Linked DNA regions of Homo sapiens. The protein of the gene in region 2 interacts with the protein of the main gene of each other region in a pairwise test. Each region holds a gene or a part of one and is shown on either strand. Other genes may lie near its edges. The genes, in order: PAX4 and NECAB1.

Evidence for each region.
Region 1: the proteins of NECAB1 (region 2) and PAX4 interact in a two-hybrid assay, tested with the Homo sapiens proteins (one large-scale study listed by BioGRID).

The regions. Positions count from the first base shown.
Region 1 is NC_000007.14:127,615,304-127,619,827, forward strand, and holds the start of PAX4 (paired box protein Pax-4), read right to left. Parts: upstream 2,840-4,524; 5' UTR 2,659-2,839; intron 2,098-2,658; 5' UTR 1,972-2,097; intron 725-1,971; 5' UTR 626-724; coding exon 613-625; intron 229-612; coding exon 98-228; intron 1-97.
Region 2 is NC_000008.11:90,955,579-90,960,014, forward strand, and holds the end of NECAB1 (N-terminal EF-hand calcium-binding protein 1), read left to right. Parts: 3' UTR 1-3,428; coding exon of another isoform or gene 3,429-3,452; 3' UTR 3,453-3,815; downstream 3,816-4,436. Other genes in the region: uncharacterized protein C8orf88, read right to left, coding at 3,429-3,452.

The DNA.
Region 1 (4,524 bases), on a different chromosome or scaffold from region 2:
CCTCAGAGCCTGCAACAGCCCCAGGCTCTTGCCTTCAGAGGAGCCCTTTCTCCCTGCTTCCTGTCCCCATCACTGGGTAAAGGTGCTGGCCCATTACCTTAAGGATCCGTGAGATGTCACAGGGCCGCATTCCACTGACTGCTAGCCGCACAATCTGCTGCCGGGTATCCAGAGGCAGGGGCCGGCCATTCACAAAGAGCCCCCCAAGCTGGTTCATGCTGCTGATCCCTGGGCGTGAGACAGAGGTATCCACACACCACCTCTCCCACTGCCCTGCCCGCCTGTGGAGAGGGTCACTCAGGCCCCTCCAGCCTGGCTTCCCACCACCGAGTGCATCCTCTCCTGGGAGACTGCATCCTTGCTGCCCCCAGGCTGTCAACGCAAGCTGCTTTCTTTGAGAGCTGGCTCACGGGTGAGTCTTTGTTCCTTGCCCATACCCGCCAACTCTCCTGATCTAAGGGAAGCAGGACAGGGCAGGAAGGGAGGGACTGGAAAAAGCTTCCCCAGAACATTGGCCAATAGCAGATGAAACAGTTGATGGAAGCAAAGCCCTGAGGTCTTCCCCTGTCTCTGTTGTCCTCCCTGTCTTCCCACTTCCCCCAGGCTCCTCACCGTCCTGATGCATGCTCCAGGCTGACCCTCCTCAGAAGGATGAGACTCCAGCTGGGAAGGCTGGGAAGGGAAGTTCCTTCTAGGAGCTCCTTTTCCAGCTTGGGGGCTGGCTCTGCAATAATGGGGGGTTATTTGGGTGAGGTCTTTTGCTTGAAATGGTCCTGGGAGGTAGTGTTTTGTGATAGAGGGTCAGGTTCCTAAAATTTGCCAGTGGGTTGGCTAAAATCAGAAAATTCTAATTCCTTTTATTTAAACCTTTGTGTGATAAAAACTAAAACACTGCAGGTTGGCTGAGGACTGGATCTTTCTTGAAGTCCTGATAAGGGGCTGGGAGGATTGAGAGGGTTCTCCTTTCCTACACATTCATTAGAAAAGTTTGGGGAGGTAGAAAGGGATAATGCTTTCAAATGCTCAAGCTTTCCCCTTTCCAAATGGACAGCTGTTGTCTCCAGCTGCTCCTAAGCCTTCTCAGCCCTGGAAGACACACCCGAGCCAGAGATTCTGGGGTCCTCAAGTTCAGGGGTCCACCTTCACTATTAGGCAGTCCTCGGTTGGGCTCTCCAAACTGCCACCCAAATGCTGCACTTCAGAAAGGCTTGCTCCTGTTTTTTTATACTCTCCAGGAAGCTCTAGGGAAACTGGGACTCAGCTCTAACCCACCAGGCATTGAGGCTCTGGTCCTACACACTGGGCATAGAGATGAACACGCCTGAAGAGCCGGCTTCTCCTAGGAGACGCATCTCTTAGCATCTCTAACCTGCTGAGATTGTTCATTCTGTTCATTCTCTGAAGAGTTCTAGATCTCACAGTGAAGCTTCAATTTCAGAGACGATGTTTCTGGTATCAGACACTCATTCATTCAACTAACATTTATCAAAGGCATATTGAAGGGAATGAGAAGCAGGAGAAGACTGTCCGCTGAGCAACATAGAAACCGTCATGAGCCCAAGCGAGTCTCTGAGCAGCAAGGGACACAGGTCCCACAGGCCACCATACCTCTTCTACTTTCATTAGTAATCAATGGGAGTTGAAGATGCCTCCTTTCATGCCTGGAACCCTGGTAGTGCTGGAGATCACCCCAAGGAACAGCTTATGCACAGAACTTTCTTATAATAAGCGTGCCATCTGGGCTTAGTTAATTCATCTGCAGTTGTATGCTGAATAAGATATTAAGCATGAGCACATTGCTGGTTGTTCAGGATGAAGGCAGTAAACAGAAAAGGGTAAAGTCTTTGCTCTCCAACACATTACAGAGCAACTGGAGAAAAGAGACTAGCACCAGTGAAACAAAGAATTACAAAGAGTTTGGAATCCAGAGTCTACTTATTAAGTTCAGTCGCTAAATTGGCTTTTACTCACTTGTTTCTAGGTAGGTAGAGGCACAGACCCCTTCAAATTCTCATCTTTCCAAAAAGTCGGGAAAGAAGGCAGAGGTTTTCCAAAGAGAAAACTGAGGCACAGATTGGCATTGCCACAAGTCAGGGGCTGTCCAGAGAGTAAAATTCAAGGTTTAGAAGCCAGTTCCTCATCAGAAGCTACAATTTCTGGCTCCTAATCCTGGGCTCTCTTTCTCTGCTCCCACCCCTGTTTCATGTTTGTGTAATTGCCACAAAAACAATGGAGAGAGGAGAATCAAGCAGGGACTGTAAAGGGCTGTGCCAAGACAGGGTGAAGGAGCTCAAAATATCAGCCAAACCCTAAATCCTTGATGGGACTCAGTTCTCCTAAGTGACCAGAATTCAAAAGAGCAGTAGGGATGCAGGTTCAGTATCCAAACCTAAATAATCTCCAAACCTAAATCATTATGCCCCAACTCACAAACAGAAACCCCATTCCCAATAGCCACAACACACATTCCCAACATTCATATTAACATGTCTGAAAAAATAACTGGTGCTTGCAAGATGGAAAAACAGGAAAGGGGGTGGAAGGGGCAGGAGGGTTGTAGCTGCAAAGGCAGAGTGGGAGAGAAGTTGGGTTTGGCCACACAGAGGCATGGAGACAGCATGAGAGGCAGGGCAGACAATGAGCCTGCAGGTGAGCTACCTGTGTGGAGGAAATGAGGTGGGAGCTTCAGTGGGAGGTCTCAGCTTCTGAGACCCCTGCAGGCTCCAGGGGTGGTGATGATCTGGTCTTGGTAACAGCCTCCACTCTGCTCCTGCTTCAGTCCTGCCAGGGGGTCCAGAGCTATAGAGAGCCCGTGCTCAAGAGCAGAGGGCAGCCTTCTGGGAGTAGCCAGTGATGTCACAGGCCATGAGCAGAGGAGAGAGGAGGAGGGAGGTGTGCATGGGCTGACTGACACCAGCCCTGAGGCAGGGCAAACCACAGCCAATGACCCACTGTGTCCTTCCATGGGGAATCCTCAGAGCCCACTTTGTGTCCACCTACCACCCGGAAGCAGGGACAGAGCCATTCTCAGACAGGCAAAAGTGTACCCACACAAGCACCAGTACTCCTGAAGGGCATGCTGAGCATGGAAGATGGGGAACTTCAGGTTGTGTTCTTAAGGCTTTGAATACACAGAAGCAAAAAGATGCCTTCCCGAACCACCAACACAGCTTCCCAGCCAGAATGCACATACATGGGCTTTGGGGTCAACTCCTGAGTCGTGTGTGTTGCTATAAAAGATAAATGAGTATACAGACTGTTGCCTAAATACTGACTGAGTTGGCTCCTAGCACTCTGAGATAATGAGAGTGAATGGAGAAGAGTGTGAAGAGTGTGTGTCACCTAGCACCAGCTGTCCCCAGAGAGTGTCCTAACCAATTCTCCAATTGACTCCTTGACTGAGGTGACACCAAGGGTGAATTCTTGCCTGGAAATGGAAGGATCCTGGACTTCAGAACACTGACAATGGTAGTGGTGGTGGAAATGAGCCTCAGGATAGTCAGAGATGCATGTGGGTGTTTATAAGGAGGCTTGCAGCAGGATTTTCCTTCTTCCATCTTTAGATGTTAGCAGGCTCCATTCTGTTAGGGATTTGATGCTTTTAGACTCTAAGTTAGTAATGGCACTGCTGTTTCCACAAAAGACACCACAGGTTATCTGGGTCATTGGCGAGGTCAGAGGTATCAGTAGCTGGGCAGGTGGTGCCTGTGGAGTGGGATGCTGAAAGTGAAACACAGCCTCTAGTGCATGTAAATTTTGTTGCCAGTCATCAGGGTCTTGGGCAGATGGTCTTTGGGTCCATTCCACACCTCAGAGTCTGTGAAACCATTGCAAAAGTTAGACTGGAAGTAAGCAGGGTGTAGGGCAATAAGACTAGTCCCAGAAATCAGAGAATGGAAGACGTATGTCATTGGTAAATGTTTTGAGGTTTTGGGGGTGAAAGTGGTTGTTGTGCATTCAGCTTGATCCTAGGGTTGGGAACTCTTGCTCTCAAAGGCCAAATATCACATAAGTGAGTTTTCCACTTTACCCTGATACATACTCTCTTCCTCTTCCACCCTCCTCCAGCATCCTCAGACTGGTCTTGGGGTACAGGGGAGACTGCAGAGGGTGATTTCAGGACCTCGGGCAGGATAGCATTTGCCCAAGTGTCCTTACAGCCCATTCCATCCCCGGGGCAGCTGGGGACTGCTGGTCACTCTACTTAGCCATGCTTGGGTGGGAGGAGGTCCCCAGTAAGGCCTGTGGTAGCCCTGCTCCTAGTCCCCCATTCCTGCCTCATCCCTCCCCGCTAGATCTGCCCCTGCGTCTAGGGGCTCAAGGCTTATGTCCTGACCAGCTATTCCTATAGACAGCTGCATGAGGGTGGAGATAGGGGTATCAGGGGGAGCAGGGACAAGCCCTAGCAGATGGTGGTGGCAGCGATTTACCCCATAAACTACCCTCTCCCTCCGCCTTTATGACGCGCTCTTGGGTCTGAACAAACAGAGGCTTTCGACCCAGAGGTGATGGGGGAGGGAAAAG
Region 2 (4,436 bases):
AGAAAATTATCTGCGGTTGTTAATCTACTGTATATTTTTGTTTGGTATATTTACTAAGTGCACTCTTTCAAAACTTATTCTATAACTTTATCAATTCATGTGAATTTTAGCTCAATTTTCAAAGTTCACTAATATTCTCAATATTTAATGCTAAATGCTTTGCTACATTGTAACTCACCTAAAACCTTTTAGTGACAAAATCCTAATATGTGGAAAAAAGCATATGCATAAAGGAATAATATTGTGAAAATGAATCTGTTATGATAAAGAAAAAATAAAGTGGAAACTTTTAGAGTATTACTTCATAGGGCAGATTTTGTAAACTGTCGTATACTGTAAAGGGTTAAATCAGCGTTTTGTGATTTTTAAGTAACTGTGAGTGAAGTTTATTCTTCAACAATGTCTACTCCATCCCCAACCCAACTCACAGCCCTATGACTACTATCTTTGCATTAGTTAAAAAGTTAGTATATAGGCATCAAACAACCTTGGCTGTAACCTATAGAATCTCTATCCACGTATCAGGTTATAGACTGGTTTTTCAAAAGTGAACAATCCTGTGATAAGTTGGAGTACCATTTAGTAATACAGCAACATTGTGTCATTTATTAGCATCATAATTCTTTGTTATGTAAGTTAAATATATCAAGAAAGAAGAGACTGTTTGGAAAAATGTGGTTCAAGTTTTATGCTATATAGTTTTGGTATGCGATACAGACAGCTAACTTTTCTTATGAAAAATACATATTTGCATGTAAACAATGATTTCAAAATACTTGAAAAATAAAATTTTAACCCAAATGAATAACTAAGAAATATAAAACAAGCACAAAATCTTAGGGAAGTCATAAAATAGTAGTGAAAGTATTAGACAGAAGACATCTGTTTTCGAATTTCAACACTAGAATGACTAAAACTATCTACCTATAGAACTATCTGTAGATAGTATACTATCTACACTCTGCTCAACAAGCTCAGAAATTAAATATTTTTAATAATAAAAATCTGTTCTGGTTATAAACCTTGCTAATGAAAATACAATACATATAAAAATGTATAGCCATGTTATTTTCTAGTATAAATTCCTTTGAAACTATAAGTCTTTGAGGAAAATTATAAGGTAAAATTTTCCTGTTTTTCCCCCTTTGAAAAACTCAGGAAAAAAGGAAGATTGAACTAATAAAATTTTATTTCTTAAATATAAATTTGACCTAAAATATTTTCTCAAACTAATTCATGAAACAGCAACTTTTACCAATACCTTTGTATACTCTCAGTTCTCATTCAGTATAAATAAAATTTTAAAATCCTTTCATAGTTCTATTAGAAATAAGTAGTAAATTTTGATATATTGTACATACACACGTGTGTGTGTGTGTGTGTGTGTGTGTGTGTGTGTGTGTGTGTATTTGTGTGCCTCTGGTCAACTCTAAGGATGACAGACACTGTGTAACAACACCTGGGTCAACTCTTTTAATTTATATACAAAGCAAAGAACAACATTAATGGAGATGCACAATGATTATTCAAACAAGCTATATATATGTACAAAGGCAAACAGACACATAACAGTCTCTGCAGACTGATTGTATATAGTAAGAAAAGATCAAAAGACTTTAAAACCTAAATGACTTTTGACATACAAACTCTTCTTGAGAATGTTTGTTGTAAATGGTTTCAAAAATACAAATTATAGCCAATCAAAACATTGCTTTGGTTGGTGCATTTAAGTATCCAACTCAAAAAGCATATCAAATATTTTGGGTACTAGGCAGTTTCCAAAGTAGCATGGTAGTATTACTTGTTAAAAGGGTTCTGTTTTCATTAACAGTACTAAGTGGAAGGGATCTGCAGATTCCAAACTGGAATAAGCTCTATCATATTCTGAAACAAGAATTAGAATGACTTGAGAACGGGCAAATAACAAAGCAAACCAATATAATTATATGGTCATTCTGACCCCAGCTCTTATACAAATTATACATGTATTTTTGTGTATGTTTGTGAGAGTTGTATGTATGTGAATGTGTGTGAGTGTGTATTCACATACACATATATACTGGAACCTATAGTAGAAAAGGAAACTAGTAGGGCCAAAAAAAAAAAGAAAAAGAAAAAGAAAAAAGAAAAAAAAAGAAAAAACTGGGACCTAAGTATAAATATCTCATCCTAAAGTAAACAATAAGTTTATAGTTAACGAAGATTTTTTTCTATTTAAAACCCCATTTTCCTAAAGAACAAAGTAGTAAAATAAAAAAAAATTTAAAAAATTAAAAAATAAAAAAAAGAGGTCACTAAAAGACCAAGATGGGAAACGTAACATGGAATACAAGCTTGAATCTGGGAAACAAGCTCAAAAAACAGTGAAAAAAAAAGTACTGGTTTAGGAGTTCAAAATTCAGTGAAACAAACTTTTTGCCAATAGACCTAGGGATCTAAGAAATAGAATTAGGGAGAGTTTACACTTACTTACCTATATATCAGCAGATTTTTCTGGAAGAAACCCTTTTTTTTTTTTTTTTTAAACAGTAACATCCAGAGTGACAAATTGCAGGAGATTTAATGTATAAAATTTCTAGGAATTAAAAGCTTAAACCCAAAAATTGTTCATCCATATATAAGAAATTATCGAATTAAAACTTAATGTATGTCAATTATTTTCAAATGTCTAAATTCCTTTGGAAATAAAAATATCAGTTTTACTTTGAAATTGCTCAACTTCTGCTATTCATATGGTCTGATTAGTGACATAAGTAGCAGCCGTTTTTCAACTTCAGTTTCATTCACTACCATTGTTTCCAAATTATCAATCTCTGCTAGTAATTATGAATTTAAGACCATATTATTATCAAAAACCTAGAGACCAATCATATATCTGAAAAGAAATACCCATTAAAAATTCTGCCTCCTGTTTATTGAGAACTATGCATTGAACATTCTGAATCATTCTAAGCCTCTGGAGAGACTGTAATGATCCATTCATGAGCTGGTATGAAATCAGTGGGAAGCAGAACAACAGAAGGAACTTTAAAAGCAACAAGCAATTATGTACCATATATACACTGTAGCAAATATTTTATATTTGAGAGTCTTTACAGCTTACATTTCCATTCCATTATTACAAGTGATGAAAAACAAAAAATTGCAAGTAGTATGCAAATTATAAATATACAGTCTTCCCACTTCACTAACCAAATTCCTACTTTCCAGTGTTACTTCCCAATTTATGCAGGAAACCTCCTGCAAAGCTGAAACTGATTAGAAAATTCTTTATATTTTAAAATAGCTCTTTCTCATTTTTAGAGAAGTCAAATAGCCAACCATCAAAATTAAGAATAAATTGAATTGTCACAGTCCATTACAGTTATTGTTGCTAGATCCACCTCATTTGCAGATGTCCAAACTTAAATTCATCTGTTCTTAAAATGCTACTTAAAACTTTGGTTGTTTTCCTGTAATATAAAAGAAAAAGTTAATTTATCAATTGATTGAATACAGTTTTTACTAATTAGTTTATCAAACCAAATACTGTGAACGTACCAGGTGTTTACAGATTTAAATGCATGTTACCATAGAAACTATTAAAGTAACTAGAACTGTCAAATAACAAAACGGCTCATGTTTTTAAAATATATGTAACTCATTTTAAAATATATTAAATTGTATTCCAAACCTGTTCTTCTGTTTCTGTGGCACCTAGGTTTAAAATATGTATTAATGTGTAAATCACAAGTAAAATGAATTCTAATGTACAAGTTTGTTTTAAAAAGTGTATGTCAAGCTTTTATTTACACAATAAAATGTTATTAAAGATGGAAAGTCTACAAATGAAAAAGTGACTATAGTTTATATAGCACTGAAGTTTACATTTATTCTTACAGACCATGGATTACATATCCCAAAGATCTTTGAACCGGTGGGAAAGTTGAAACATCAAGTACATTTTTTCTTATTTAATATTTATGCATGAGAAGTATTATAAAAAATTTTAATTCCTGCTTTAATTAACTTTAAAAAGAATTGGCTAGAGATCTAAAGTTAGGGAGTTTAAGAAATATTAATATAAACTATGAACAACATAATGTTTTTTAAAAATTATAATTTGAGGAAAAAAATACTATGAATTCCAAAGAATTAGAATACCAAAAATGGAGATAGAAGGTAGTAGTGTTTATCTCCCATTCGAACTGTTCTCAGTATACCTATATTCTGAATCTCATTTCAGAAGAGTCCTAGCTGCCTTTACCTATATAAAGGTATTTACGAAAACTCTAATAGGAAGTTAAATTCCAGTCAAATGTAAGTAGAGACCACAAAGAATGGGAATCATTTACTAAAAGCATAATGAGAGAAAGGTATCATACTCAGTAATCTCATGCATTATTTTATTAATCCTAACAGCCAGAGATTATCATCCTTATCAGCAATTGCAAAAC